4 linked regions of the Homo sapiens genome follow. The protein of the gene in region 1 purifies or fractionates together with the protein of each later gene. This does not show direct contact. Each region holds a gene or a part of one and is shown in the gene's direction. Other genes may lie near its edges.

Region 1 (7,023 bases):
TTATCAGAGCACCTTGATATGTTATTGCCCTGTGAAAGTCTGTTCAGTTTGGGGCTAGGAGGGATGCAGTCAGTGAAAGTGGCATAGTTTGTAATGTTTTTTAGAGTTTTGAATAATTATGTTAACTAATCTTTATAGAAAAGTTTAAAGTGTACAGAGAAGCAAAAAGAAAGTAGTCACTAAAAGTTTCACCACTTAGAGACATAATTACTGGTAATATTTTGATGTATATATTTCCAGACTTGTGTCCCATGTAGCTATTATATTTTTCTCAATAGATCCCAAAGTATCCAACTCCCTCCAGGGCAAGAGTTGCTTTTACCTTTACCCTTAGACCTCTGAGGCTGGCAGCTGGCCCCACCTGAGAGGGTCACCCTCTCCCTAATCCTTCCCCATACTTCTGTGAGTCACCTGGCTTTGGGGCAATAATAGATACTTGAGAGGGCGTTTGAGGAGGAACAAGGAGGAAGGTCACAGCTGTAGTTCATTCTGCATGATGTGTAATCCAGGCTTTTTCAACTCTGGCACTGTTGACATTTTGGGCTGGATAATTCTTTGTGTATGTGTAGTTGGGGTAGGAAGGTGTCCTGTGCATCACAGGATGTTTTGCAGCATCCCTGGCCTTTCCCTACTAGATGCCAATGGCACATACCCTTTTCCCCCCGAGTACAACAATCAGAAATGTTGGTGAGAAATACTGGGTTAATGAAAATCACTAATTTATTGCTGACAAAGCTCTGGAGTTTCAGATTCCAATTTGCATGTGGGAAAGAGACTGAAATCAAAAGGGAAACATAATGTAAGCCAAGGAAGCTGTTTAGTCCTGGCTGTGCTATTAATTTACTGTGAGATTTTGCATCTCTCCCACGTGCAAATTGGAATGTGAAACTCTAGAGCTTTGTCAGCAATAATTTAGTGATTTCCATGAACCCAGTAGTTCCTTTTTTTTTTTTTTTTTTTTTTTAAGATGGAGTCTTGCTCTGTCACCCAGGCTGGAGTGCAGTGGGACGGTCTCGGCTCATTGCAACCTCCGCCTCCCAGGTTCGAGCAATTCTCCTGCCTCAGCCTCCCGAGTAGCTGGGACTACAGGTGCACGCCACCATACCCAGGTAATTTTTGTATTTTTAGTAGACATGGGGTTTCACCATGTTGGCCAGGATGGTCTCGATCTCTTGACCTCATGATCAGCCCCATGCCCGCCTCGGCCTCCCAAAGTGCTGGGATTACAGGCATGAGCCACCGTGCCCGGCCCTTAACCCAGTAGTTGTTACTGACATTTCTGATTGTCGTGCTGGGGGGAAAACGGTATGTGCCACTGGCATCTAGTGGGGAAAGGCCAGGGATGCTGCAAACTGATATACTGCCAAGTTTATCAGTTGGGAATCCCAACAGTGAAAAGCATAAAAATGAAAGGAATTTTAAGGAGACTTTTTATAGAAGAGTGGGCAGGATTGGAGGAGCCAACAAGTGATGGTGAGGCACACAGGGAAGAGCTTCAGTGGGCACCATCCCCTCTCTGGTTTGAAGGGGTAGGGAGGGGACCAGAGCTGGGAGGAGGGGGCTGGAATACTGCTGGAGGAGCCACTCCCTTCCAGACCTGCTGTGGCCATCACAGAATGCAGCCACTGCCAGAGCAGCAGCCTGAGGAACCAGGCAGGGGGAGCACAAGTACCCTAGCCTCTCTCTTTCTGTTTCTTGCCTGCCGATCTCCTCCACTGGCTAAACCCAGCTGGATGCTAAGAGTACAGTCAGCCTGCCTGCTGAGGAGGGACCACCAGGGACCACCATCAGCAAGGGATCCAATGTCTTTCTGCCTCTGCAGAATGAAGGTTGGGGCACGGGGGGCGCTCTACTTCTTAGGGATATTGTGGGAATAAAAGGAAATAGGCAAAAAATGTTTTTGAAAAACAAAGCACATACTGCGCACCCGTGGGCCACTACTGCTTTTGACCCCTGGCTCTGTTTCATGAAGTAATGTCGTGTCATTCTCTTTTTAGGTGCTACAGGATTTCTTTAGGTTTGTTTTCTGTCCACCATATTTCAACTCATGTGTGCTGTTTGTTGTGCTAAAACAAATATTTGCTGATGCCTGAGTGAATAGTTGAATATTTTATATAAGTCAAATTTATACGTAATGATTTTTCTTGTAACTTAGCCGTTTCTCTTTTACAAACTCAGAAAACCTCAGACTTTGAAAAGGCCTTGAAGTTCCTCACCTGAAATCTGAGAACTTGGAGCGCCTTAAAAAATCTAAAGGAAAACAAAACAGTGAAAGAACATGATATAGTCAGTGTAGAGAATAAAATTATTTATGTAATTAATATTGAGGATGCAGATAACACGTTGTGAAATCTTGCTTGTAAAAAATCTCGATCTGCTGAAGAAAGATGTTCTCTCTAGAGATCTTTGAAAGCATAATTATTGAGCTTTTAAAATGTTAGAAACAAAAGTTAGACCCACACATATTCTGGCGTGTGGAAGATTTGCATTCCTTCCCCTGCCCGCCCCGCCCCCGCACTTGTGAGTTGTGCCTGTGTACGCAGTTCCTGTAGCACTCGGCTGGGCAGAAATCATCTTTCAGCACTAAGGGAACATAGTTATGATCTGGACCTTCTGGGAGTGGTCAGTGCCCAAGAACAGGTATGGGACTCCAGAAAGTTCTGCTCTCAACCCTATTTTGAAATAGAGTTACACATTGTTCTACAATTATTTGAGTTAATAAGCAGCTCTTTTCAAACGTGATTATGCCCTTCCAAGTTTAAATACACTAGACTTTAGTGAAAGTAATTGACCTCATCTCATTTCTCTCCTGTTATATTAAGATCACTTTCAGTAAAAGGTAGAAGCTTTTGAAGTGGTGAGGAGGAGGTAGAGGAGGGACATAGAGCAGATAGGGGCTGGAAAGTGGGGTGGGGAAGAGAGTGGCTTCTCTTTGGCAGAGTACCAAGGAAAAGCCCTATCTGTACAGAACCTTTGTGCCTGGGAACTTGATGGCTGCAACCTGAGCCTCAACCTAGTTTGCTTGCGGAGCCAGAAGAGAAGCTAAAAACCTTCAGTTAACCAAGCCAGACACCAAGAAAGTTAAACCGAAAGAGAACCCCCCACCCCCCGCAAAAAAAAGAAGTAAAGTGGGTTAAAGTGATATGTTAGCACAGAAAGAGAACATAAGGGTCATCTAAGTTCATCTGCCCCCTCTTCTATTTCAAGGTGCAGAAACTAAGGCACAAGGGACCCCGTGTCCTGCTCTTGATCACATAGCTAGTGGGTGCCAAGCCAGGTCTAGAACTCTGTTCTCTGGGGTCACAGGCTGGCTCTTCATCCCTCTAGAGAGATAGCTCATCTGTGTGCACCTGAGCCCGTTGTGTTTCGGAGTCAAAGCAAATAAAGGCTCAAACTCCAAGACTGTTTTGCAGACCGGCTGCAGTAGATACGGGGGGAGGAGAAACCTGCTTTAAATTGCTTCAAGCAAGTTGTTTCTGCAAAGGTGTTGACTTTTTTCTTTCAACTTTCTAGTGAGTCACTGCAGCCTGAGCTGTTATTTGTCATTATGCAATAATTCAGGAACTAACTCAAGATTCTTCTTTTTAAATTATTTGTTTATTTAGAGACAGAGTCTTGCTCTGTTGCCCAAGCTGGAGTGCAGTGGTGTGATCTCGGCTCACTGCAACCTCTGCCTCCTGGGTTCAAGCAATTCTCATGTCTCAGCCTCCCGAATAGCTGGTATTACAGGCTCGTGCCACCACCCCCTGCTAATTTTTGTAATTTTAGTAGAGACACGGTTTCACCATGTTGGCCAGGCTCGTCTTGAACTCCTGGCCTCAAGTGATCCGCCCGCCTCGGCCTCCCAAAGTGCTAGGATTACAGCCGTGAGCCTCCACACCCGGCCTATTTATTTATTTTTAAATTGGCTGCTCTTAGAAAGGCATACCATGTTTCTGGATGGGAAGGCTTATTAATTCACCCTAATTTAATGTATAAATTTGATGCAATCATAGTCACAGTCCCAGTGGAATTTTTTAACTTGGTAAGATGTTCTAAAATTAATGAGAGAACTTGAATTACCAGGTATTGAAACACTGTAAAGCCACAATCATGTAAACAGTATGTTATAACCATGGGAATAGAGGTCTGTGATACAGCAGAAAAAAGTGAAAAAAAGAATAACTGTATTCATAAAAATTTAAATGTGGAGTCACTGGGGGAAAGGATTAAATATTCGATAATGTAGAAACAACTCAACTATTTGGAGAAATGTAAATTTAGAGCCTTATCTCATGCCATATACCAAAATACTATTTAGATTTGATTAAAAAATAAAAATGTAAATAAAGAAAAGTTAAGGCAAGGCGTGGTAGCTCATGCCTGTAATCCCAGCATTTTGGGAGGCCGAGGTGGGTGGATCACCTGAGGTGAGGAGTTCCAGACCAGCCTGGCCAACATGGCGAAACCCCATTTCTACTAAAAATAATTAGCGTGGTGGTGTGGTGGTAGGCGCCTGTAATCCCAGCTACTCAGGAGGCTGAGGTGGGAGAATGGCTTGAACCTGGGAGGCAGAGGTTGCAGTGAGCCGAGATCCCACCATTGCACTCCAGCCTGAGTGACAAGAGTGAAACTCTGTCTCAGGGAAAAAAAAAAAAAAAAAAGTTAAAAATCTAAAAGAAAATAAAAATGTATCTATTTAATATAAGTCTTTTGGGAAAATATTTCTCAGCATAATACTAAAAGTTAGAAAATAGAATGTTTTTGTGTTTGACCATTTAAATAGTACACCTTTGAAATTTAAATAAAAAAAGGAAAACTAAACAAACCAAAACCTTTTTGTTACAGGATTAGGTCTTAGATATTTTAAGATATATTAAAATACAGAATAAAGTTCCTCCTTGATTCTGTTCAGAGTTTAACTAGTCCTGGCCAGACAATGGGGAGGAAAGGAGAGGGAGCTGTGTGATGGGCAGGCAGAGAGTTGGAAGGTGGAGCCAGATCTCGCTTGGCCTGGGATTGCTGCCTCTCCTGACGGTGCATCTTATCGTAAGGGGGAGTTGAAAGCAGAAGGGGAAACAGCACAGAAAGGATCTGTCTGGCCGTTACAGTTATGTGACCATGGCAGGTCCTGCCAGTCACTCACAGCTCTGTGAGCAACTAGCTGGGGTACCCCAGCTGAATGTGCTTTAAAAACAGCAATGTGGCCAGGTGCAGTGGCTCATGCCTGCAGTCTCAGAACTTTGGGAGGCCGAGGCAGGAGGATCACTTGAACCCAGGAGTTCGACGTTGCAGTGAGCTGTGATCATGCGTGCCACTGCATTCCAGTCTGTGTTAAAGAACAAAACCCTGACCCTGAAAAATAAACAAATAAACAGCAATGCCACTTATTCTAGGTGGTACACCCCTGATGCCCAGTGTACGAGTTCCATTTAGGCTTCTTTCTCGTGCATATGCATCTCTCCACATCCTTTCGTTTGTTTGTTTTCTTTTGTTTTGCTTTCCCCAGATTATGTAGGAAAACAATAAAGTTCATAAGTAATGTTCTGTAGGCCACTTTTATAGGAAAACTTTCCTCTAAGATCTCATTAGAAAAGAAAAGCAAGTAGCCTGCCACCGAGCACCTGTGCCAGCACAACTACACTGTGGAGCACCCAGATAAAGTGGCGCTGAACGCACTGCAGCCTCCTAAGTTCGGAAAAGAAAGCTCATTAGCATCTACACTGAAGACGCTCCTGTTCTTCACAGCTTTAATGATCACTGTTCCTATCGGGTTATTTATATTTCACAACTAAATCTTATATATCTGGAGGCGCCCTTGGGATATCCAATAAGGACAGCTGTTTTTATGCTGCTATTGTTGCCGTGGTCACCGGCCATGTGGTGCTGGCCCTCTTTATGTATGTGGTCTGGAATGAAGGCTCATGACAGTGACATGAAGGCAAACAGGATTAAAGTGAACATCACCTTTTGATAGCATTAAATTCATTTTTTAAAATGATAAATGCTGGAGGGGGGACATCTGATTTGAATAAAATTGAAAGAACATGTTAAAGTCAGTCTTAAGGAGTCATGTTTGAGTAGTGTAAATTTTGATCCTCCTAATATGTTGTTTGTATATTCAGTTTTAACTATATGAATCTCATTTGCAAATGAGAATTTGGAAAAGTTAAATTAGTTACAAATAGATATGTTAATTACAAAAAAAAAAGAAAGGGAGAGCAAGTAGTAGTGAGATTTCTGCAAGGTCAAAGGACTCAGGGCAGTTTCTTCTGAATGTAGTTTGGGGGCTGGAGAAAGAAATAGGAAGCAGTAGAATTGCTAGGTCAGATTGGAATTTTAAGAGCTATTGCTGCACTACCCTCCACAGAGATGCTACCCACTTGTAGTCCCCCAATAATATCAGAGTGTATTCCTGACCACACTTTAACCAACACACTCTGGCAAACATTTTGATCTGTCAGTCAGATAGGCCTTCTTGCTATAATCAGAATTTACATTCTGTGATCATGACTGAGGGTATCATTCTGCCTGTTATAAGAGTTACCTGAATTTCCTTTTCTGGGAACCAGAGAGCAATTTAGAGCTGGAGCAGACCTTGGAGATGAAGTCCAACCATTCAGCCTACAGCCTATGACCCGTTTGACCGTCGTTGTTGCTTGGGTAGTTCAGGACTGACAGGACTGGACACCAGGTCTCCTGTTTATCCTTGAAGCTCTCTGGGTGAATGTAAGACAGGACCTGTCAAGGCCTCTGGCACAGCCTGGGTTTGAGTCTAGAACCAGAAAGTCTGGAAATTGCAGGGCAGTGCCGCAGTGCCTTGGCTGTGAAGCAGGGTGCTTTACCCTCCCTGAACTCCAGGCACTTCGTCTGTAAAATGGAATTAATACTAGCTTTTTTTTTTGCCAGGGTTCTGAGGATTAGGGTTAATGTGTATGAACTAGCTGACCCAGAGAGGCTCACATCTGTTCTCATCCTCCTCACATTTGGGTGTTCTGTTATCTGTTATCTGTTCTGTCACTGTTCTGTTATCTGACTATCACT
Region 2 (7,023 bases), on another chromosome or scaffold:
GGTAACTGTCTTTTTCTGCCATGGGTCTCATCATTTATCAGTTACTGCTAAATTCACAACTTCTCTGTAGATGTTCGAGCTTACTCTCCCACATGCCCTCTTATGGTTTCTCCATTAGTATGTCTTTCCTCTCCCATGCCCAGTTCATCTTTGGGTATCTCTGTCTCCTAGATCTTGACTTTTCAGGTGACTCTGTTATTCCTGTTTTGACTCCTCAGGGTATTGCTCTCCATCCCCTGACCCTAAAATGGCTCCTCCTTGGGTATGTACACCTCCTTCCTGCCCTCATCGTGGCTCTTCCATGTGTCTCCTCAGGTGCTCTCTGCAGCCACCATTGTGGCTAAACACACCTCTGCACTGTGTAACAGCTGTCGCCTGGCTTCTGCCCGTACCACCAATCCTACTGCCAAGCGCCAGTTTGTACAGTCAGCCAAGGAGGTGGCCAACAGCACAGCTAATCTTGTCAAGACCATCAAGGTTCCCATTGCTTGAATTCCCAGCCTCTCCCTGACCTGTCCTATCTTCTCCCCCGAGTCCCCCAGTTATTCTCTGAAGCCTTCTACCAAATCCCCTCTGCCTGAGCCCAAGCTCTTTCTATTCAGACTGACCACCTAGCCTCTCCCCAAATCCTGTAAGTCCCAGGAAGGAGACCTGGACTTCACTTCCTATACCCCCTATGACTGCATCCCAAGTCCTGAGAGCCTCTCTGTCACTTCTAGGCGCTAGATGGGGCCTTCACAGAGGAGAACCGTGCCCAGTGCCGAGCAGCAACAGCCCCTCTGCTGGAGGCTGTGGACAATCTGAGTGCCTTTGCGTCCAACCCTGAGTTCTCCAGCATTCCTGCCCAGATCAGCCCTGAGGTGAGGCGATGTGAAGGGGGAACTGATGGGCCAGCTTATCACCTCATCTTCCAGGGACTCCTGAGACTTACCTTCCTGCCTCCCCTCTCCCCAGGGTCGGGCTGCCATGGAGCCCATTGTGATCTCTGCCAAGACAATGTTAGAGAGTGCCGGGGGACTCATCCAGACAGCCCGGGCCCTCGCAGTCAATCCCCGGGACCCCCCGAGCTGGTCGGTGCTGGCCGGCCACTCCCGTACTGTCTCAGACTCCATCAAGAAGCTAATTACAAGCATGAGGTATTGAGGGATGGGGAACCAGTGTGGCTGGGGGGCATACATTGTGGCAGAATGGAGGATGGGCACTTGAGTGCAATGAGATGGGATGGTGTTGGGAGGATACAGGGGAAGGATAGGCTGGCCTTGCAGTAGGGGATGTTCTTGGTGTTGGAGCCCATGATGTGTCTGCAGGGACAAGGCTCCAGGGCAGCTGGAGTGTGAAACGGCCATTGCAGCTCTGAACAGTTGTCTACGGGACCTAGACCAGGCTTCCCTCGCTGCAGTCAGCCAGCAGCTTGCTCCCCGTGAGGGAATCTCTCAAGAGGTGAGAGGGAGAGGGTTATATGGAAAGATGTGTCTAGGAAGAGAAATATCAGACTCAAAGAAGCTGGGGGATCAAGGAGTGGCTTCTTAGGGACATCAAAGGCTGGGATGTGCGAAGGAGGGTTAGGGTATTTGGTATGGACAGAAGAGCAGTTCTTTGTAGCCAGAGGGTCCTATTGCAGGTCACCATCAGGGCTAATGTCCACTTCCTCCCCAGGCCTTGCACACTCAGATGCTCACTGCAGTCCAAGAGATCTCCCATCTCATTGAGCCGCTGGCCAATGCTGCCCGGGCTGAAGCCTCCCAGCTGGGACACAAGGTACCTATGGAGACTCATGGGAAGTCCCAGGGAGTAGGGTGAGAGAGAGGGGACCTGACCCCTAGTCCAACCCCTTGCCTCAGGTGTCCCAGATGGCGCAGTACTTTGAGCCGCTCACCCTGGCTGCAGTGGGTGCTGCCTCCAAGACCCTGAGCCACCCGCAGCAGATGGCACTCCTGGACCAGACTAAAACATTGGCAGAGTCTGCCCTGCAGTTGCTATACACTGCCAAGGAGGCTGGTGGTAACCCAAAGGTATTGAGGGTTGGGAGGGAGGAGCTGTTACTAGCAGGAGGCTGGAGAAACAGGAACAACAGAGCTCCTCTCCTCTCCCCACAGCAAGCAGCTCACACCCAGGAAGCCCTGGAGGAGGCTGTGCAGATGATGACCGAGGCCGTAGAGGACCTGACAACAACCCTCAACGAGGCAGCCAGTGCTGCTGGGGTCGTGGGTGGCATGGTGGACTCCATCACCCAGGCCATCAACCAGGTTAGAGTCTTGGGGTGCCTTTGGACACTGAGGCTACCCTGGGCCAGAGCCTCCAAGCACAGTGGCAGAGACCCTAACAGTCTTTCCCTTTCCCTATCCTCCCCCCTCAGCTAGATGAAGGACCAATGGGTGAACCAGAAGGTTCCTTCGTGGATTACCAAACAACTATGGTGCGGACAGCCAAGGCCATTGCAGTGACCGTTCAGGAGATGGTGAGTTTGGGCGAGTCCCAGAGGACTGCCCTCGGAGAGCTGACTTTGGATATAACTTCACTCGTTCCATTATCACCAGGTTACCAAGTCAAACACCAGCCCAGAGGAGCTGGGCCCTCTTGCTAACCAGCTGACCAGTGACTATGGCCGTCTGGCCTCGGAGGCCAAGCCTGCAGCGGTGGCTGCTGAAAATGAAGAGGTAAACGTGGAGGCAACTCTGCCCTGCCCCCTGCCCCTTGTTCCTGATGTGTCAGTGTCTAGGGCTGTCCCACCCCCACCCTCTCTGGTCTTTCATAGAAAGGGGAACAGCCTCAGGGCCACTCTGCTGAAGACTAGTGAGGCTCTGGGTAGGGACAGAGGATCAAAGCCTTCAGTCACAGGTACAAAGGAAACAGCTCAGAATCTGGAGCCTTCCCGGGCCTGCCTTTCTGGCTTCTGCCGACCCTCATCTGGGCCTACAGCTGCTTCTCTGTTGTGCTGCCAGTCCATGTTCTTGTTCTTTCTTGTTGCAAACTCATGAAGCTCTTCCTTACCTAAGCCTCTAGCTTTCCAAGAAAGCAAGTAATTGGATCTTAGCAGGACACATGTAATGCCCATCCTTAAAACCCTCCATAACCCCATACAGGCCACATGGTAATCCACGGCCCTCTGATTCCCACATTCAAGCATAAAGTGCTCCTCCCCTTCTCCCCACTGTGCTTAACACAATCCTCACCACTTAGTGCCTGCGTGCTACTATTTTCTGTGTGTAGGAGGTGACCTTCTGCCTAAAGGATATGCAACCGGAAACGTCCTTGTGCTGGGAACCTTCTCTCTCTGCTTCTTTAGTCTACAATGCATGTTTTTTTCTATGTCCTTAGTGACTTTTCCAAGCACAGTGAAGGTACCCTGAGTGCCCCTTGTAAAATCCATCTGTCTTTCCCTTGGCTCACAGATAGGTTCCCATATCAAACACCGGGTACAGGAGCTGGGCCATGGCTGTGCCGCTCTGGTCACCAAGGCAGGCGCCCTGCAGTGCAGCCCCAGTGATGCCTACACCAAGAAGGAGCTCATAGAGTGTGCCCGGAGAGTCTCTGAGAAGGTGACGGTGCTCATCCCTGCAGATGGTGGGACTGCCTCCAAACTCTGTAGCCTTTGCCATCCTCCTCCAGCCCTCTCAGCCCTCTCCTGTTGTCACTTCTCCCAGGCATGGGCAACCTTTCCATTTCACATGGCACCTTCCACAGTCACCATGTGACATTCCCTACCCAGGTCTCCCACGTCCTGGCTGCGCTCCAGGCTGGGAATCGTGGCACCCAGGCCTGCATCACAGCAGCCAGCGCTGTGTCTGGTATCATTGCTGACCTCGACACCACCATCATGTTCGCCACTGCTGGCACGCTCAATCGTGAGGGTACTGAAACTTTCGCTGACCACCGGTAAGACAGGAACTGGGCCTAAGGGAGGCAGACAGGTCGGGGCACGGGGCTGGAAGAGGCAGGATAGCATTCGCTGGAATGGGGAAGACCTGGACCAGGCACCTTGGACGGGCTGGAGCGGGTAGGGGAGATCTGACTAAGCTGGGCCCTCCCTCAGGGAGGGCATCCTGAAGACTGCGAAGGTGCTGGTGGAGGACACCAAGGTCCTGGTGCAAAACGCAGCTGGGAGCCAGGAGAAGTTGGCGCAGGCTGCCCAGTCCTCCGTGGCGACCATCACCCGCCTCGCTGATGTGGTCAAGCTGGGTGCAGCCAGCCTGGGAGCTGAGGACCCTGAGACCCAGGTAGTGACCTGATGCCCCTAATTCCGGCTGGAATCACTTCCTGTCCCGCTTCTTCCTCCCATAGACCAGAGCCAACGCTTTCCCACACAGGTGGTACTAATCAACGCAGTGAAAGATGTAGCCAAAGCCCTGGGAGACCTCATCAGTGCAACGAAGGCTGCAGCTGGCAAAGTTGGAGATGACCCTGCTGTGTGGCAGCTAAAGAACTCTGCCAAGGTTGGAGAGAATGAGAGCAACATCAGGAGGGGCACTGGATTAACATACTTCCTCCTGTTCCTTAAAATCATTCCTCTTCACTCCTCTGATACCTCCAGGTGATGGTGACCAATGTGACATCATTGCTTAAGACAGTAAAAGCCGTGGAAGATGAGGCCACCAAAGGCACTCGGGCCCTGGAGGCAACCACAGAACACATACGGCAGGAGCTGGCGGTGAGTGAGAGTCTGGGGCATCAGTGACTAGGGTCAGAGAGAGGGATCCTGAAAGCCTGTGAACCTGTGCCACACATATACTCACAGCTGGAGTCACACACAGTCTTCTCTCTCATCTATCGCCAGACTTTTTTTTTGAGAAGGGTCTTGCTCTGTAGCCATCCTCCTCCAGCCTTCTCAGCCCTCTCCTCTTGTCATTTCTCCCAGGTGTGGGTGACCTTTCCATTTCACATGGCATCTTCCTCAGTCACCATGTGACTTCCCCTACCCCAGCTCTCCCACACCCTCCTTCTGGAGTGCAGTGGCGTGATCTCAGCTCACTACAACCTCCACCTCCCAGGTTCAAGTGCTTCTCATGCCTCAGCCTCCTGAGTCACTGGGAATACAGGTGCATACCATGCTGGCTAGTTTTTGTATTTTTAGTAGAGATGGGGTTTCACCATGTTGACCAGGCTGGTCTCGAACTCCTGGCCTCAAGTGATCCACCCGCCTTGGCCTCCCAAAGTGCTGGGATTACACTCATGAGCCACTGTGCCAGTGAGCTACATTCATGTCTGTCCCCTACCCACTTGTTTATTCCTTAGCATGTGACAACTGTATTTTTTCACCACCCTCCCACTTTCTCCAGTCACTAGTGGCCTCTTCTTAGTTGCTACATTCAGTGGCCACTTCTTGGCCTTCATCCTCTTTGAATATTTCGAAAGCATCTGACTGTGTTAACAAGCCTCTCTTTGAAATTCTTTCTTCTGCTGGGCATGGTGGCTCACGCCAGCACTTTGGGAGGCCAGCGGGTGTAATCCCAGCACTTTGGGAGGCTGAGGCGGGTGGATCACAAGGTCGGGAGTTCGAGACCAGCCTGGCCAATATGGTGAAACCCCGTCTCTACTAAAAATACAAAAATTAGCTGGGCGTGGTGGCACGCGCCTGTAGTCCCAGCTGCTTGGGAGGCTAAGGCAGGAGAATCGCTGGAACCCGGGAGGCAGAGGTTGCAGTGAGCCAAGATGGCGCCACTGCACTCCAGCCTGGGCAACAGAGTGAGACTCCATCTCAAAAAAAAACAAAAAAGAAAAAAAATGAAATTCTTTCTTCCCTTGGCCTAGATACTGGCTTTTCTCTTGTTTCTCGAACGTCATTGAATCACCTTTAACTTAGTAAATGTGGAGGCCTTCCCAGGGTTGTACAAATAGTCTTCCTTCTCTCTTCTCTTCTTTGGCAAGTTTAACCACTTTCATTATTATTCTGTAAGAAGCAGACATCCAGTTCTGAGTTGAGTTATTTTCAACTGCCTGTTTGACATCACCACCTAGATGCAGTGCCTCCGAACCATGACATGGTCCTCCTAATGGTGGGAACACCCTTGCAGTCATGAAGATTCCACCTCAGTCATCTTTGACTTCACCATCTTAGCCACCATATCCAGGCTGTTGCCACGTCCTTTCATTCCTCCTCCCTGGTTCCCTGTCCGCACTCTGGTTCACACTTCCATACTCTCCCGCAATTTGGCTGTGGCACCAGTTTTCTCCCTGGTCTCCCTGCTTCTGGTCCCTGCCACTCTCCTCTCTCCCTACTCATCTTTCTAATTTCTAAATGCATCTTTCTAAGGTTCTGTTTTCACTTTTACTTGAAGATGTCCAAGTTGGAACTCTTGACTTTCTGCCTCCCATACCTGGTCCTTTCCTGGTCTTCCCCCATCTCAGTAAATGGCACCTCTTAGTAACTCAGTTCCTAAAGCCAGAAACCTAGCTTCAATATATTAGACTTCTCTCTTTCTCTCATTCCCCACATCTAAGTTTTGCTAGTGCCCCTTCCAAATACAGCTCATTTTTTCTTTTTATCTCCTACCACTACCACACTGTCCAAACCATCATCAGTCCTTAACTGGATTTATGCAGTAGTCTCTATCCAGTCACCATGCTTCAACACTTGCCCCCTCCAATCCTCCTTTGTACACAGTAGCTAAAATTATGTTTTTAAAATATAAATTAGAGTCTGGACATGCTGGCTGATGCCTGTAAAATCCCAGCGCTTTGGAAGACTGAGATGGGAGGATCACTTGAGTGAGTTCAAGACTAGTCTGGACAACATAGCAAGATCCTGTCTCTACAAAAAATTTAAAGATTAGCTGGGCAAGGTGGCCCATGCCTGTCCCAGTTACTCATGAGTCTGAAGGCAGGAGGATCCCTTGAGCCCAGGGGTTCAAGTCTGCAGTGAACTATGATCACTCCAGTGCACTCCAGCCTGGGTGACAGAGCAAGAAATATATATATATTAGATTATGTCACTTCACTACTTAAAACCCATTAGTGATGGCTCTGCTTGCTTCTCCAGTCTCATCCTACTCTCTTCCTTTCTGTGCCCCATCCCCCTGCACCATC
Region 3 (7,023 bases), on another chromosome or scaffold:
TTAGAGGTATTCTTTTGACTCTTTTTTTACTTATTCTTTCTTTCTCTTATTTAATAATCTTTTCTTTCCTTTGTAATTTATTTTGTGAAATTTCCAGAAAGACTTTGGTTCTGTCTGCATCACATTATAAAACATAATAAAGCATTTCTATTTACAAGCAAGTTTCAGGATAAAGTAGTCTTATTTTCAGATTTTTTTTTTTTTTTTGAGACGGAGTCTCGCTCTGTTGCCCAGGCTGGAGTGCAGTGGTGCGATCTTGGCTCACTGCAACCTCCACCTCCCCGGTTCAAGTGATTCTCATGCCTCAGCCTCCCAAGTAGCTGGGATTACAGGTGGCCGCCACCACACCTGGCTAATTTTTTTTAAGGGGCACTGCTATCTTTCCTCAGAAAAAGAACAAAACTGTTTGGGTAGTATTTTTTTTCATGTTTCATTAAAATCAGGAATGGTTTGACGGTTTGTAAAGTAGGTAGTGAAAAAGATATGAATTAGATTCCATTTTGTTTGGTGTTTAGCCAAGTAGGAACTGTTCATTCATGTGTTTCATAACATTATTTAGAATATAACTCAGAATTGTATGTTGGGAGATTTATTTTGAAATATGTACTTCTTTTCCCCTTTTCAATCCTTGAAAGGAAAATATTGTAATGGGAGAGTTGTTCCTACTGATTTTTATTAGAGATGGGGTTTCACCATGTTGGCTAGGCTTGTCTCGAACTCCTGACCTCAAATGATCTGCTGGCCTCGGCCTCCCAAAGTGCTGGGATTACAGGTGTGAGCTACTGTGCTTGGCCTTTTTCAGATTTTAAAATACGATGGAAATGGTTGTGGTGTTTTAAGGTGTAAAAAAAGAAAAAAATACTCCGGGCCTGGTGGCTCACGCCTGTAATCCCAGCAGTTTGGGGGGCTGAGGTGGGCGGATCACCTGAGGTTGGGAGTTTGAGACCAGCCTGACCAACATGGAGAAACCTCGTCTCTACTAAAAATACAAAATTAGCTGGGCACGGTGGTGCACGCCTGTAATCCCAGCTACTTGGGAGGCTGAGGCAAGAGAATTGCTTGAACCCGGGAGGTGGAGGTTGTGGTGAGTGGAGATCGCACCATTGAACTACAGCCTGGGCAACGAGCAAAACTCCATCTCAAAAAAAAAAAAAAAAACTGGTGGGCACAGTGGCTCTCACCTGTAATCCCAGCACATTGTGAGGCCAAGGCAGGAGGATGACTTGAGCCCAGGAATTTGAGAACAGCCTGGGCAACAAAGCAAGACCCCACCACTACAAAAAAAAGTACACGCGCACACACACACACACACACACACACACAAATACAAATGCAAACTGTATTATGCTATGGTCACAGGATTGATCTTTTTTAGCTTTTATTTTTCTTGCTCTGAAAACTGAAATTTTTCTTTAAATTGGAGTAGAGCGTTAGTATTTTTTGTTGTTGTTGAAACAAGAGTGTCGTTCTGTTTCCCAGGCTGGAGTGCAGTGGCACGATCTTGGCTCATTGCAAGCTCTGCCTCCTGGGTTCTTGCCATTCTCCTGTCTCAGCCTCCCAAGTAGCTGGGACTACAGGCGCCCGCCACCACGCCCAGCTAATTTTTTGTATTTTTAGTAGAGACGGGGTTTCACCGTGTTAGCCAGGATGGTCTCAAGCTCCTGACCTCGTGATCCGCCCGCCTCGGCCTCCCAAAGTGCTGGGATTACAGGCGTGAGCCACCACGCCCAGCCTTTTTCTTGTTTTTGGTTTTTTTTTTTTGCTTTTTTTGTTTTTGTTTTTGTTTTTGTTTTTGAGACAGAGTCTCACTCTGTTGCCCAGGCTGGAGTCCAGTGGTGCGATCTCGGCTCACTGCAACCTCTGCATCCTGGGTTCAAGCACTTTTCCTGCCTCACCCTCCTAAGTAGCTGGGATTACAAGCGTGCCTCACCACACTGGCTAATTTTTTTTTTTTGAGACGGAGTTCCACTCTTGTTTCCCAGGCTGTAGTGTAGTGGCGCGATCTCAGCTCACCGCAACCTCTGCCTCCTGGGTTCAAGCGATTCTCCTGCCTCAGCCTCCCGAGTAGCTGGGATTACAGGCATGTGCCACAATGCCTGGCTAATTTTGTATTTGTAGTAGAGATGGGATGGGATTTCTTCATGTTGGTCAGGCTGGTCTCGAACTCCCAACCTCAGGTGATCCACCCGCCTTGGCCTTCCAAAGTGCTGGGATTATAGGCGTGAGCCACCGCGCCCGGCTCACACTGGCTAATTTTTGTATTTTTAGTAAAAATGGGGTTTTGCCGTGTTGGCCAGGCTGGTCTCGAATGCCAGACCTCAGGTGATCTTCCTGCCTTGGCCTCCCAAAGTATTGTGATTACAGGCATGAGCCACCACGCCTGGTCTAGAACATTAATATTAATATATTAAAATGTGAACACTAATTATCTAGCGTAGATGATGGAATTAGGAGTATTTTTCCCCCTTTGTCCTGGTGCTACTATCAGTTGTAATTTCAAAATAATTTAAAAATAGGCTGGGTGCTGTGGCTCATGCTTGTAATCCCAGCACTTTGGGAGGCCGAGGCAGGCAGATCACCTGAGGTCAGGAGTTTGAGACCAGCCTAGCCATTATGGCCAAACCCCGTATCTACTAAAACTACAAAAGTTAGCCGAATGTGGTGGCGGGTGCCTGTAATCCCAGCTACTTGGGAGACTGAGGCAAGAGAACTGCTTGAACCTGGGGGGCGGAGGTTGCAGTGAGCCGAGATTGTGCCACTGCAACCCAGCCTGGGCGACAGAGTAAGACAAACAAAACAAAACAAACAACAACAACAACAAAAAGATTTAAAAATAAATTTGATAAATTGGAGTAGGATATTCTTATTGAAACTCATTAATACATAGTATTCTTGTTAATAGGTTCAGTTTAATAGGAAAGCTACTAGAGAACTCTAATGAAATGTGTTTTCTTTTAAGGAAACTTACATGCTTGCTGTAACTTTGGATGAATGGAAAAAGAAACTGGAATCTCCCAACAGAGAAATTATTATTTTACACAATCCAAAGGTAAAACAAAGCATTTCTCTTGTCGGGATAAAAAGTTAATTGCGCTATTAGGGAGAACTCAATTGGTTTCTTTTGCTAAGCACTCTGTGTAGGATAACCTTTGTCAAATTTTATATTGAATTCACAGTTATGAAACTTAAAAACTTGTAGCCACTACTGTTATTTACCCAACTCAGCTTATACAAAATAATTTTCTTATGGAAAATTATGCCACTGTAGAATAAGAAAATCACTGACATATTATGTGAGCATGTCTTCCATGTAGAAAGGGACTATTGACAGATCTGTTAGCCTAATATATTTTCACGGTTCTCATTTCAAGCCATACGAGTTGTATATCAAAACTCCAGTTCAGATTTTACTGTGTGGTTTGAAAGACATGATTCTACACTTAAAACTGCATTGTATAGAGATGATTGTATTGCAGAATATTTTTATTGCTCTGATCTGTTCTGTTTAAGCTTATGGTGCATTACCAGCCAGTTGCAGGGTCTGATGATTGGGGTTCAACACCCACGGAGCAGGGTCGACCAAGAACTGTGAAGAGAGGAGTTGAGAACATCTCTGTTGACATTCATTGTGGTAATGTTAATCGTTTATTTTTTCTTACCTTTGGATGTATTTGTTTACTCCTTAAATTGTGACCTTTTTCTGTGGATTTAGATTACCTCAAGGCTTAAAAATCATCTTTAATCATATGGGTTTATTCCAAGTTGAGATTAGCATCACTTCGTCTACTAAGAATCTTAATAGATGTAAAAATATCTTTTAAAACATATGGTAGGATGGGTAAAATTTGGCAATACTATCCAGGAAGTCACTAAGTACAGATGAACTGATTTAGTCCTAATTCCAAGAAGTGTGATTCCACCTACTTGACTAGAAATTTATACCTGGTAATAACTCCTTGTCCTTGAAGATTTTCAACTAAGGAAAACTGTTTTTCAGCAGGACCTGATTATGCACTGCTATCTAGGTAGGGTCACTTATGGTTTTATAATATATTTAATTGGATTATAATATTCCTTTTTTCTTGTCTCTTGGACAAAATCCTAGCTTTACTGTAATTTAAAAAGATGAGTTTAAAATTTCAGGCTTTAAAAACATACCAAACATTGATAAAAATGAAATACTAGATAAAAGTATTTTATCAATGTTCAGTTGCCTGGATTCAATAACTGTATTATGGTTATGTAAGATAATATACTTAGGAAATACACATTATGGTATTAAAGGGTTAAAGAGGTATGGTGCATGCAACCTGATGATGTATGTAGTCTGCTTTCTAATGATTCAGAAAAATAAATGTGTGTGTGTGTGTGTGTACACACACAGAGAATCATAAAGCAAATGTAATTGTTAAAAAGTTGAATCTCTGTAAAAAGTATGTGGGAGTGTCTGTACTATGCTTTCTAGTTTTCTGTACATTTCTAGTTATTTAGAAATAAAAAGTTTTAAAAACCTGGCTGCACGTGGTAGCTCATGCCTGTAATCCCAGCACTTGGGGAGGCCAAGGTGGAAGGATCACTTGAGCCCAGGAGTTCGAGACCAGCCTGGGCAATATGGCGAAACCCTGTCTGTACAAAAAATACAAAAATTAACTGGGCATGGTAGCACACATCTGTAGTCTCAGCTATTTTGGAGGCTGAGGCAGGAGGATCACTCGAGCCCAGAAGGTTGAGGCTGGAATGAGTGTTTATCATGCCACTGCACTCCAGCCTAGGCGACAGAGTGAGACTCTGTCTCAAAAAAAAAAAAAAAAAAGTTTTTAAAACCTGAAAAAAGGCCAAGTGTGTTGGCTCACGGCTGTAATCCCAGCACTTTGGGAGGCTGAGGCGGGCGGGTCAGGAGGTCGAGACCATTCTGGCTAACACGGTGAAACACCCTGTCTCTACTAAAACTACAAAAAATTAGCCAGGTGTGGTGGCGTGTGCGTGTAGTCCCAACTACTCGGGAGGCTGAGGCAGGAGAATCGCTTAAACCCGGGAGGCAGAGGTTGCAGTGAGCCAAGATCGTGCCACTGCACTCCAGCCTGGGTGACAGAGCAAGACTCTGTCACAAACAAAAAAAAAACCATAATTTAAAAAAAAAAAAAAAAGAGTTTTTTTTTTTGGAGACAGAGTCTTGCTCTGTCACCCAGGCTGGAGTGCAGTGGTGTGATCTCGGCTCACTGCAACCTCTGCCACCTCCAGGGTTCAAGTGATTCTTCTGCCTCAGCCTCGCGAGTAGCTGGGATTACAGGCATGTGCCACCACACCCGGCTAATTTTGTATTTTTAGTAGAGATGAAGTTTCACCGTGTTGGTCAGGCTGGTCTCGAACTCCTGACCTCATGATCTACCTGCCTTGGCCTCCCAAAGTGCTGGGATTACAGCCGTGAGCCACCGCGCCCAGCCGAGTTTTCTTTTTCAGAGATCAGAAAAAAAAGAAAAAAGTCCTGAAAAAAATTTTACAGACTTATTTCAAGATAAATTAGAAACCAAGTAAAATCAGTGTATTTTTGCTAGGTACTTAAAGGACTATTTTGTATCTTTTAAATTATCTGTTCATCTTTTAACTTGCTCATATTTATAACCTTTTCATGATGAATGATATTAGAATACATGACTAATTATACAGAATAATTTTCTTTTTAATTTCATTTATAGGAGAACCTTTACAAATAGATCACTTGGTTTTTGTAGTCCATGGGATTGGACCAGCTTGTGATCTCCGCTTTCGAAGCATTGTACAGTGTGGTAGGTTTGCAAAGCATGTGAGAGAATATTAATCAGTGCTCTTGTGAGCTGAGATAAAGCCTTGTCTTTGGTCTATTGTCTTAGCTGCATAAGAAGATTTGGAGAGTTAAAGACAGGTGGCAAGGTAGTAAAGCTTCTCAGCTTAGACCTGAAGTGCTAGGAAATTCCTGAGTCTAATAGTTTATACTCTTAACTATTGTAATAGTCTCAAATGAACAAGCAGTTAATCCCTATAAAATTGTGTTTTATGATGTGGTGGTCCTATTTCTAACTATTTCAAATTTACAGGGAACCATAAAGATGATAGAGTTTAATGAATAACAGAAGCATCAATCATTTTTGTAATTCATACTGTGATAAACCTTTGATATTGTAATTGGAGGATTTAAGTCATTAGTATAACTAGATTTTGAAAGGTGTCCTCTAGGCTGGGTGCGGTGGCTCACGCCTGTAATCCCAGCACTTTGGGAGGCCAAGGCAGGTGGATCATGAGGTCACGAGTTCAAGACCAGCCTGGCCAAGATTGTGAAACGCTGTCTCTACTAAAAATACAAAAATTAGCCGGGCGCAGTGGCAGGCGCCTGTAATCCCAGCTACTCGGGAGGCTGAGGCAAGAGAATCACTTAAACTCGGAGGGCAGAGGTTGCAGTGAGCCGAGATCGGGCCACTGCACTCCAGCCTAGGCAACAGAGTGAGACCTCAAAAAAAAAAAAAAAAAAAGGTGTCCTCTAAAACCTGATAGTATTCAAAGTTTAATTGTTCCAATTAGGGTGTCTTATTCTAACTGGCTAATGGTTCTAAACATAAACTAGAATTGTATTGTGGAAGGTTGAGACTGATGTGATATGAATTTCAAACAACAGTGTATTTTTTTTTCTTTAAAGTATTGGGTGGTGCTTGTTTATAAGAACCAGAAAGTTAGGGTAGGAATTCAACTGCAAGACTGTTGTTATATTGTCATGTGATTAAAAAAAAAATGAAACAGTTCTCATGATGCCGACGTTTTGAAGTTTAGCTTTCTTTTTTTTTCCTTTTCCTTTTTTTTTGTTTTTAAATATATTATTTTCTTTCCTGAGACAAGAGCTTTGCTCTGTTGCCCAGGCTGGAGTGTAGTGGTGTAAACTCAGCTCACTGCAACTTCTGCCTCCCGGGTTCAAGTGATTATCCTGCCTCAGCCTCCTGAGTAGCTGGGATTACAGGCGCACACCACCATGCCTGGCTAATTTTTGTATTTTTA
Region 4 (7,528 bases), 8.5 Mb from region 1:
CACGCTGCGAGTTTTGCACACAATGTTAGCACGCTGATTCTTCCACTGCCGGGAGGAGGCCCGGGGCTCTGAGGGCCGGTCCCTGCGGTAGTGAGCTCGTGGGGGATGAACGGGGAGCGAGTGGCCGCGGGGAGGAGCGAGAGGGTCGCAGCCCCGAGGGCTGTCCTGTGAGCAGGCTGCGGGGCCTGGCGCGCGGGGACCCGGGGAAGACGCTACAAGGCCTGGAGGCGCCGCGCCTTGGGACCCGGAGGAGGCCCAGGGCGGACACGTGGGGTGGCCTGGGGTCCCCCGCCCACGTAGCGCGGCTGCTGAAACTACATGTGCCCTGGGCTGCCCGCCGCCCTGAGCCTGAGGCCAGGCGGGTCAACGTCGCAGCACCGCGGGCTTCTGCCAGAAGGACATTTCCCCTCACCTCCTGACCACATCGGCCTTGGAGATGGGCGCGAAGCGCCTTACGCCCACAAGACATCCCTTTATCGGCTCTATAGCTGGGCGAGACTGAGGTCTCGGACGGAACGCGCGCACTCACACCCCATCCAGGAACTTCAGTGACACTCAGGGGTGCTGGCTCTTTGCTTTGCCCTTCGAGCAAGACTTGGGTAAGGGCTCCTCGAGCTTTCTGGTGCGGAGGCTTCCTGGGTCGGCCCGAGGCCTGTAGGTTCCCGGCCACTTCTTGCAGCTTGGCTGCGAGGGAGCGCTTCTCCGGGACCACTTTGGCTCGATAAACTAAAACCCGCGGGGTGTTCGTCGGAAGGATCCTGGGAGGCAAGGCTCAGACCCGCCCTCCCGACTCGCGGTGAAATCCAAGGCCGCGCCGCGCGCTCCCCACGGGGCACGGAGCCGCGCGCTGCTCTCGGCGCGCCCCGGGAACGCGCCGCAGCGGCCTTGGAGGGGCTGCAGTTCCTCTTCTCACTGTTCTTGGGAAGTCTTTCCTTTTCCGTAAACCTAATTTAGGAATCCAAAGGCACCGAAGCCCGTTAATGTCGCTTTTAAAGTGTCTACCAGAAAGAGCTGGAGGGAGGCTGTGGACAGGAATCTCCGGCCATGTTCGGGAGTAGACAGATGCCCTTGTGCTGAGAAGCGGGTCTCCCTTCTCCCATTCTCTCCTGCCGCCAACGGTGGCTGCCAGGCTGTGCCCTCCGCTTGGCACCCTGCCCCGCCGTCTCGGCTCTGCTCTCGACCACGGCGCCTGCGGACGGTTGGTTAGACCTGCCGGGACCGGTCCCTGCAGCTCCCAGCTAAGGGAGCATTCGTTAGCATTCGTTAAGCGAGGGACCATTGTCCAAAAGCCGGAAACCGATTACTTCCTGGACAGTTTTGGGGGTCGACTGTCTTCTGAGTTCCGGGAGCTACAAATGAGAATTTGAAAGAGTGGTGTATATAAGGAGACATCTTCCAGTCTTCCATATAATCAAATTCCATATAAACAAACTCAGATGTATAACAAAATTTTACATTCTTAGGCGCCAAAGTTTAAACGGGATGTAAATAACAATCCAATACCCTCCTGTGGCCCCAATGCTCTTTGTACATTCCAAAACTATCTACATTATATATGAGCACCCGAGAGACATGTTTCTCCAATCGCGAATTTGCAGTTCAAAATTAAATATGATTAAAATTCTGTATTATGCTTTACTTATGTTGGGTTTATTGTGAGTGTTAGGCTTTTTATACACATTAGGGCATTAATCCAAAGAGCTATCTTCCAGGTAGGAATGAACTATTGGCCCTATTCTAACGCAGATGAAGAAACTGAAGCTTTGAGAGGTTTAGTAACCTACACAAAGTCTCCGGGCTAATGCGTGTGTTAAAGTTAACATTAAGACTTCAGCAGCTTCCGCTGCCAGCAGTCAGCCTGAGAAGGGCCTAGAGAGATGTGTTAACGTGCTTGTTTTGTTCCAACCCCCGGGTGGTTTTACCTGTTAACCTGCGCTATCAGTGGCGTTTTGAAGGGACCTCAGAACTCCCCACTCTCCGCTTTGGGAAGGCTTTGAATCATCCTTCGACAGCACCTCTCTGCCCAGAACCGGTTCCCCGTTTTTATGGCATCATATTGATTTGCAAAGGCAATAAATCTAGGAGGAGGGACGGTGTGCCCCCGATAATAATGTTGCAGCATATGTTTTACTGCCGAGGTTTCAACACCAACAAGATGCATAGCCTAGAGATCCCCAAACGGGTCACCCGGATTTGTTTAAAGTGGCCTTTTCAATACCTCTCGTTTGCCGCCTGCCTCCTAACGATCACTCATCTTTTCTTGTATAGTATTTTACCTGTAGTAGGATGCGCAGTCGGGGTTTCCTGCACACAAGAGACACAGAGCTGGGCTAAGGCCGCGTAGGCACTTGGAAAGGAGGAGGAAACAGATTTGTGGCAATTCAGTTTTTCCCTTGCTTCATCAAATTTTCTGAAAATGTTCCTCTCATGATATTATTCATATTCCAGTCAAAATCATTGAGGTAATTAAGAAAAGACACAGTTGTTTTCCTCTGTGTAGAAAAACAATCAAAAGGGTTTTTTTATGAAGTATAATTTTGCGGCAAGTTTTTGAAAACTAAATTCAGCTAACAAGGTTTGCCACACCCTGTTGAAGCATATATCAAGGTCTAGACTAACCATAACATTCCCCGACCTTCCAAAATCCCCACTTCTTGAGGGAAATCTTTCTTTCTGGACAAATCCTAAGCATTTGATATAGGAAAGGAATCAGTGTGTGCCTTCCACTCAATACAAAGAAATGTCACTTACATTGAGAAGGTGTGTCTGGGGAGAGACAGGTTGGGGCGGGGGACTTTAATAACCAAAAAAGGGGTCTGGATTGGGTCTGGGTTGTCCAAAACCAGCAAAAAATTTAAGAATAGAAACGGATCCTCAGATGCATCCTGCGGTTTAATCTGAAAGCCCTCTGCTTGCCAGCCGTCGTTAACTCTACTCTGGCTCTTCAGCTAACAGCCCAGCCACAGCTGCAGGGCCAGGGGCTGATGAGGGTCGGGGCCCGGAGTGTGAGTCCTGCCCTTCCGTCTGCTTCTAGCCGCTGAGGTGGACTGGGGGGAGATGCGCGCTCTGCCACGTCGGGCCCTGTTTTTCTCTCTCAAACGCACATGGAGACCGGCTAGAAGACAGCGTAAATTCCTTCCAGCACCAAAGTCTATGGTTTTACGAATTTCCTCAAACATTTATAAATCGACACTTCGAACTTCGATAGTGATATGAGAATGCATTTTTTAGTCACCTTCATCCAGCACCTTGTTAAAAACTATTGACACACGATGACCAAGACAGGCTGAAATCACGACTCTTCCAGATGTCATCATTTTGTTCACACAAACGTTTTCGACAGCTATTTTAACTTGCCGTTTTCCCTCACAAATTTATTTCAGGAGTAGGGGGTGGTGCAGTGAAAAGTTGGAGTTTTAAAAATTATTATTATTATTTTAATTTTAAGACCCACGAAGAGGCTTCTAATAGCCAGACCGACTGGCTGGAAAAGAGAACAAATATTTACATATACAGCTTGAGTGTGTATGTCAGCCTGAGTTTACACGGCTCCAAGCGAAGCGGATTACCCTGCGAATTCGGAGAATTTGAGTTATTCAGGCTGAGCAGGGCTAACAGGACGCCCTCCAACAAGGCCGTGGGAAGTCCTCGTCACAGCCGCCTTTGTAAAACCAGAGGGGTCTGTGTCCGCTTAGTCCGGGCGCTACCATAAGGTTCGCACTCTCCCACTACGCGTCGCGTGGTTACCGTAGAGCTCCGCGCCCTGACCTTCGCCTTCTCTTCGGCAGCCGTCCCATTTTCCAGGGTCCCTCTAGGGAAAATAGGAGCCCCAGGCTAGAGACGCACTGGTGAGGAGCAGAAGCCACGGTTCTGAGAGCAGCATCCTTTGCCAAATGCCCGCAGCTCTCGCTAAGCTTATCTTTTTCAGGGCTGCATTTGCTCAGCCCCACTGTCAAAGAGATCAAATTTGGGACCATCGAATGAGAGTCCCAGCCCTGGGATCTGCCCCGAGTATGGACCTGGCCAGTTGGCGCCGGCTCAGAGGCGCCGGATTCTACTGAGCGCTTCCCTACTTTCTTTTGGAACTTTGAGCGCAGGTAAGAAAAAGAATGGAAAAAGCGAGAACTCCCGAGGCTTCCACTGGTCTGGTCATAGCTTCCCCAACTGGGCCATGCCCGGATCTCGGGCGTTAGGCCGCGGTGATGTGTCCTCTCCCGACAGCGCGCACCGCCCTCCCGCCCGGGGCTGTGAGACCAGGTGGGGATGTCCATGGCTGCTGCGTCAGCCTAGTGGTGGCACCCTTTTCCCTGAACCTGTGCTGGGGTACCGAACAGCCGGGGCGACAGGCCACGCGGGCGCCGCACCCTGGGCGCGCCCTCCGCGCCCGGCCCGCGGCCCCGCCCCCGGCGGCGGAATCAGGAAGCGGTGACGTGAGACGGCGCTGACTGGCTGCGGGCCTCCGGGATCGCCGCCGCCAGCAAATTAAGGCGCAGGGCAGCGAGCGCCAGGGCTCACTGTCCGTAGTTCCGCGCCGCGCTCCCCACGCCAGCGTCCTAGCAGCCGCGCTCGGCTGGTGGCCACCTCAGCCTGGGACATCCCGGCTGTCCCCAGCCCCAGAGGGAGGAAGGACGCGGAGGGGATGCTCCAGGACCCCAGGACTTTGTGCAGTTGATGCTCGTTTCCGCCTTCGGGCTGTGCAGACTGTCGTCCTGCCGAGCGCCCCGGGGCGTGCGCACCCGCCGTAGTGCTCGGTGGGCCCTCTCCTCTCCGGCTGCCTTCGAAGTCTCTGCGGCTCTGGGGCTTTGCGGTGGGGAATAGAGGCCAGTGTGCAGCTCTGGAGTCGTTGGAGCTGACACTTCTGGAGTCCCTGGCCCCGCTGTGACTGCTCTCGGAAACTTTGAGCTGTGTTTCGGGTCTTTGTCTCCCTTGGGGAATCTGGACGGCAGTTCGGACGACCCCGTCCCTGGCCAGGACCGCGTGCTGGGGACCATGGAGTTCACGGCGTCCCCCAAGCCCCAACTCTCCTCTCGGGCCAACGCCTTCTCCATTGCCGCGCTCATGTCGAGCGGCGGCTCTAAGGAGAAGGAGGCGACGGAGAACACAATCAAACCCCTGGGTAAGTTGGGCTACCCGGCTGTCCGCCGAGGACTGGGGATGCTGCGCATCCGTCTGTGCCCCTGGCTGCAGGCGGCTCGCAGCAACGTCTGATGCTCAAGCCATGAGCCATACATCGCGGGTGGGAGATCTTTTTCTTTTGGGTCCAAGTTTTCTTTGGAGGCTTCAGTCTGTTGAATGCTGTGAATGTGCATCTTATATCTGGGCCCGTCGGTCTCCTAAGTTGTCTAGAATCCATATATCAGATCAGACATATGGTGTGTGTGTATGTTTGTTGGGTTAAAAACATTCATGGAAAAATAATAATAAAACCCCTTTTAAGGCTCAACAGGATTTACTGTGCATGTAACACCTGCTTGTGCGTTTGAAACGGAGACGCTAAAGGACTTCATAAGAAACCAGTTTAATTTTGGTTTTCCTCTGACTTGAATAGACAAAACAGAGCAAGCTCTTTGAAACCACTGTAAAGCAGAATAAGCCAGTTCTCCCTACACGAACCATTTTATTCACTGAAGCTCTAGACTTATCACCAAGACATCATTTTATAACTGTCGTCATTTTCAGTTGAGGTTGGCAAAAACACTAACCAGTAACCATTTCTCAAATTCCTCTACTTTTAGTTATGTTGTTTGTTTAACAACCTTTACCATTTATAGAAGACACTAGGCTAGGAGTAAAGGGAGAACAGGGATTATGTTCTTCTTAACACTAGTGAATTACATGGAAAAGAACCACCCCAAGATAAATATTTAAGAATCTCTTTACAACTGAGGGAAAAAGAAGTGTTCTCATCATTGCCTCGTGGATCCCCAGGAAATAATTGTTACACAGCCTGATCGTCTGGTATCACTACAATGTGAAAATCAGATAGCAAACTTAAGTTAATTTTTCTTTTTTAACCCTCCCCAATTTTTCCTTTCTTCTCTCTGTCCTTCCCACACTTAACATATCACATCCAAAATAATGATAACATGAAAAAAAGGAAGTGTTAGAGATCAAAAATAAGGTGTTTGGGCTTAAAGATGAGAGAAGTAAAATTCCTGTAGCTACTTGAAACCAAGGAAAAAGAAACTAGTAGATCTGTAGAAAACAGAATGTCAAAAAAAAAAAAAAATCTGTCCTCTAAGTTTTCACCCCCTTCCCCTGGTTCTTCCCACCCACCTCCCATCTAAATCTAAACCTGCCAAAGAATGGAGACAATCAATCAAACAAAATCCAATTGTTTAGAAAAATATAACTAACAATTTCAAAGTTATATTGTGCGACTTCTCAACATTATACATTGCTGTTTAGGGGCCCCTGAATTCTTTGTAAACATCTCAGCTTGTTACATAGCAGGAAAAGAGGATTCCCGACAGAAGTGTAGACAGCAAATTGGGAAACATGCCAGCCCCAGCTGCACTGTCATTTCAACATTGCTTCCTTCTCTCTTTATTTTTCTGAGAAAAGCCACCTTATATCGAAAATTCTAAATCTTGAACTTTAAAGCCATGCCCAGCTCACAACTCCAACCCTACCCCCATGCCCACACACACATATAGGCACTAGTATAAAATGCATGTCCCTCTCCTGGCTTTTGAGATGGGCTCTGAAAGAACTAGCAGGCGTTCTTGTCGCTTACACTGGCCAGTTCAACAGAGGTGACTGCAAGCCAAGGACTCTATCAAGAGAAACACCTAAAAGTTCTGTTAAGAGAGAATGTGGGACTTTTGTTGAAGCAAACTATAGAGTGGGGAGGGGGATTCCAGTGTGTCCCAGGATTGCCCTTTTAAACATACAAAGTCTATTTAAAGGAACAGCTTCAGTCTGCTGAAGCATTTCTATTTCATTTTCTTCCTCTCCTACTTCCCATCCTGATGCATTGGTCAGTCTGGGGCTTAGGGAGTTTGCCTCTTTCAGTTGTCAGAAAAAAAAGTCATTAACACTACTTCTTAATTCCCTCCGAAGACATTATGTGAATGTGTTTCTGAAAATATTAGTAGAAAATAAGATTTTGTTATGGTATGGTTTCCTTTCGTTAATCTGAAAAAAATCAGGATGGCATTTAATTTGATTATTCTTAAGTTAAAACATTTTCATGGGTTGGATTATCATTGCATGAGAAGTAAAAGTAAAACCACTCTGTTTCCTGTTTTCTTCATGTACGGATGTGTAGGAAATAAAACACCTTATGATCTGTGCGTGTCCCATATGCCCACACACATCATGTACATGTACATACATACATTTAGAACTGGCTTTGATTTCTTGAGGGCACTTAAGAGATCAACTTCACATTGCAAATTCAAGTAGTTTCTTTTTTAAGGGATGGAAGATAATTGGGACAATTACAGAAGTCTCCCTGTATTCCATCAAAGTGACTGGTGTAGTCCCAGGCCCTTATCAGCTGTGGGGGAGAATGTTTGGTTCATAG

The links.
Region 2: the proteins of BLVRA (region 1) and TLN1 purify together in Homo sapiens (affinity purification with mass spectrometry; 3 studies listed by BioGRID and IntAct, with this or other methods). This does not show direct contact.
Region 3: the proteins of BLVRA (region 1) and DDHD2 purify together in Homo sapiens (affinity purification with mass spectrometry; 3 studies listed by BioGRID and IntAct, with this or other methods). This does not show direct contact.
Region 4: the proteins of BLVRA (region 1) and TBX20 purify together in Homo sapiens (affinity purification with mass spectrometry; 3 studies listed by BioGRID and IntAct, with this or other methods). This does not show direct contact.

Annotation. Positions count from the first base shown.
Region 1 is NC_000007.14:43,761,666-43,768,688, forward strand, and holds part of BLVRA (biliverdin reductase A), read left to right. Parts: intron 1-965; exon of another isoform or gene 966-1,109; intron 1,110-2,539; exon of another isoform or gene 2,540-2,640; intron 2,641-5,588; exon of another isoform or gene 5,589-6,038; intron 6,039-7,023. UniProt on the Homo sapiens protein: Reduces the gamma-methene bridge of the open tetrapyrrole, biliverdin IXalpha, to bilirubin with the concomitant oxidation of a NADH or NADPH cofactor. Does not reduce bilirubin IXbeta.
Region 2 is NC_000009.12:35,701,185-35,708,207, reverse strand, and holds part of TLN1 (talin-1), read left to right. Parts: intron 1-315; coding exon 316-477; intron 478-719; coding exon 720-860; intron 861-954; coding exon 955-1,136; intron 1,137-1,307; coding exon 1,308-1,440; intron 1,441-1,656; coding exon 1,657-1,758; intron 1,759-1,841; coding exon 1,842-2,012; intron 2,013-2,096; coding exon 2,097-2,246; intron 2,247-2,356; coding exon 2,357-2,458; intron 2,459-2,537; coding exon 2,538-2,657; intron 2,658-3,392; coding exon 3,393-3,539; intron 3,540-3,709; coding exon 3,710-3,876; intron 3,877-4,033; coding exon 4,034-4,217; intron 4,218-4,307; coding exon 4,308-4,433; intron 4,434-4,531; coding exon 4,532-4,648; intron 4,649-7,023. UniProt on the Homo sapiens protein: High molecular weight cytoskeletal protein concentrated at regions of cell-matrix and cell-cell contacts. Involved in connections of major cytoskeletal structures to the plasma membrane.
Region 3 is NC_000008.11:38,234,579-38,241,601, forward strand, and holds part of DDHD2 (triacylglycerol hydrolase DDHD2), read left to right. Parts: coding exon 1-6; intron 7-2,959; coding exon 2,960-3,049; intron 3,050-3,510; coding exon 3,511-3,631; coding exon of another isoform or gene 3,632-3,693; exon of another isoform or gene 3,694-4,514; intron 4,515-5,696; coding exon 5,697-5,786; intron 5,787-7,023. UniProt on the Homo sapiens protein: Diacylglycerol (DAG) and triacylglycerol (TAG) lipase required for proper lipid homeostasis in the central nervous system. It cooperates with PNPLA2/ATGL in neuronal TAG catabolism and hydrolyzes sn-1,3 DAG downstream of PNPLA2/ATGL.
Region 4 is NC_000007.14:35,251,082-35,258,609, reverse strand, and holds the start of TBX20 (T-box transcription factor TBX20), read left to right. Parts: upstream 1-4,509; 5' UTR 4,510-4,989; coding exon 4,990-5,116; intron 5,117-7,528. UniProt on the Homo sapiens protein: Acts as a transcriptional activator and repressor required for cardiac development and may have key roles in the maintenance of functional and structural phenotypes in adult heart.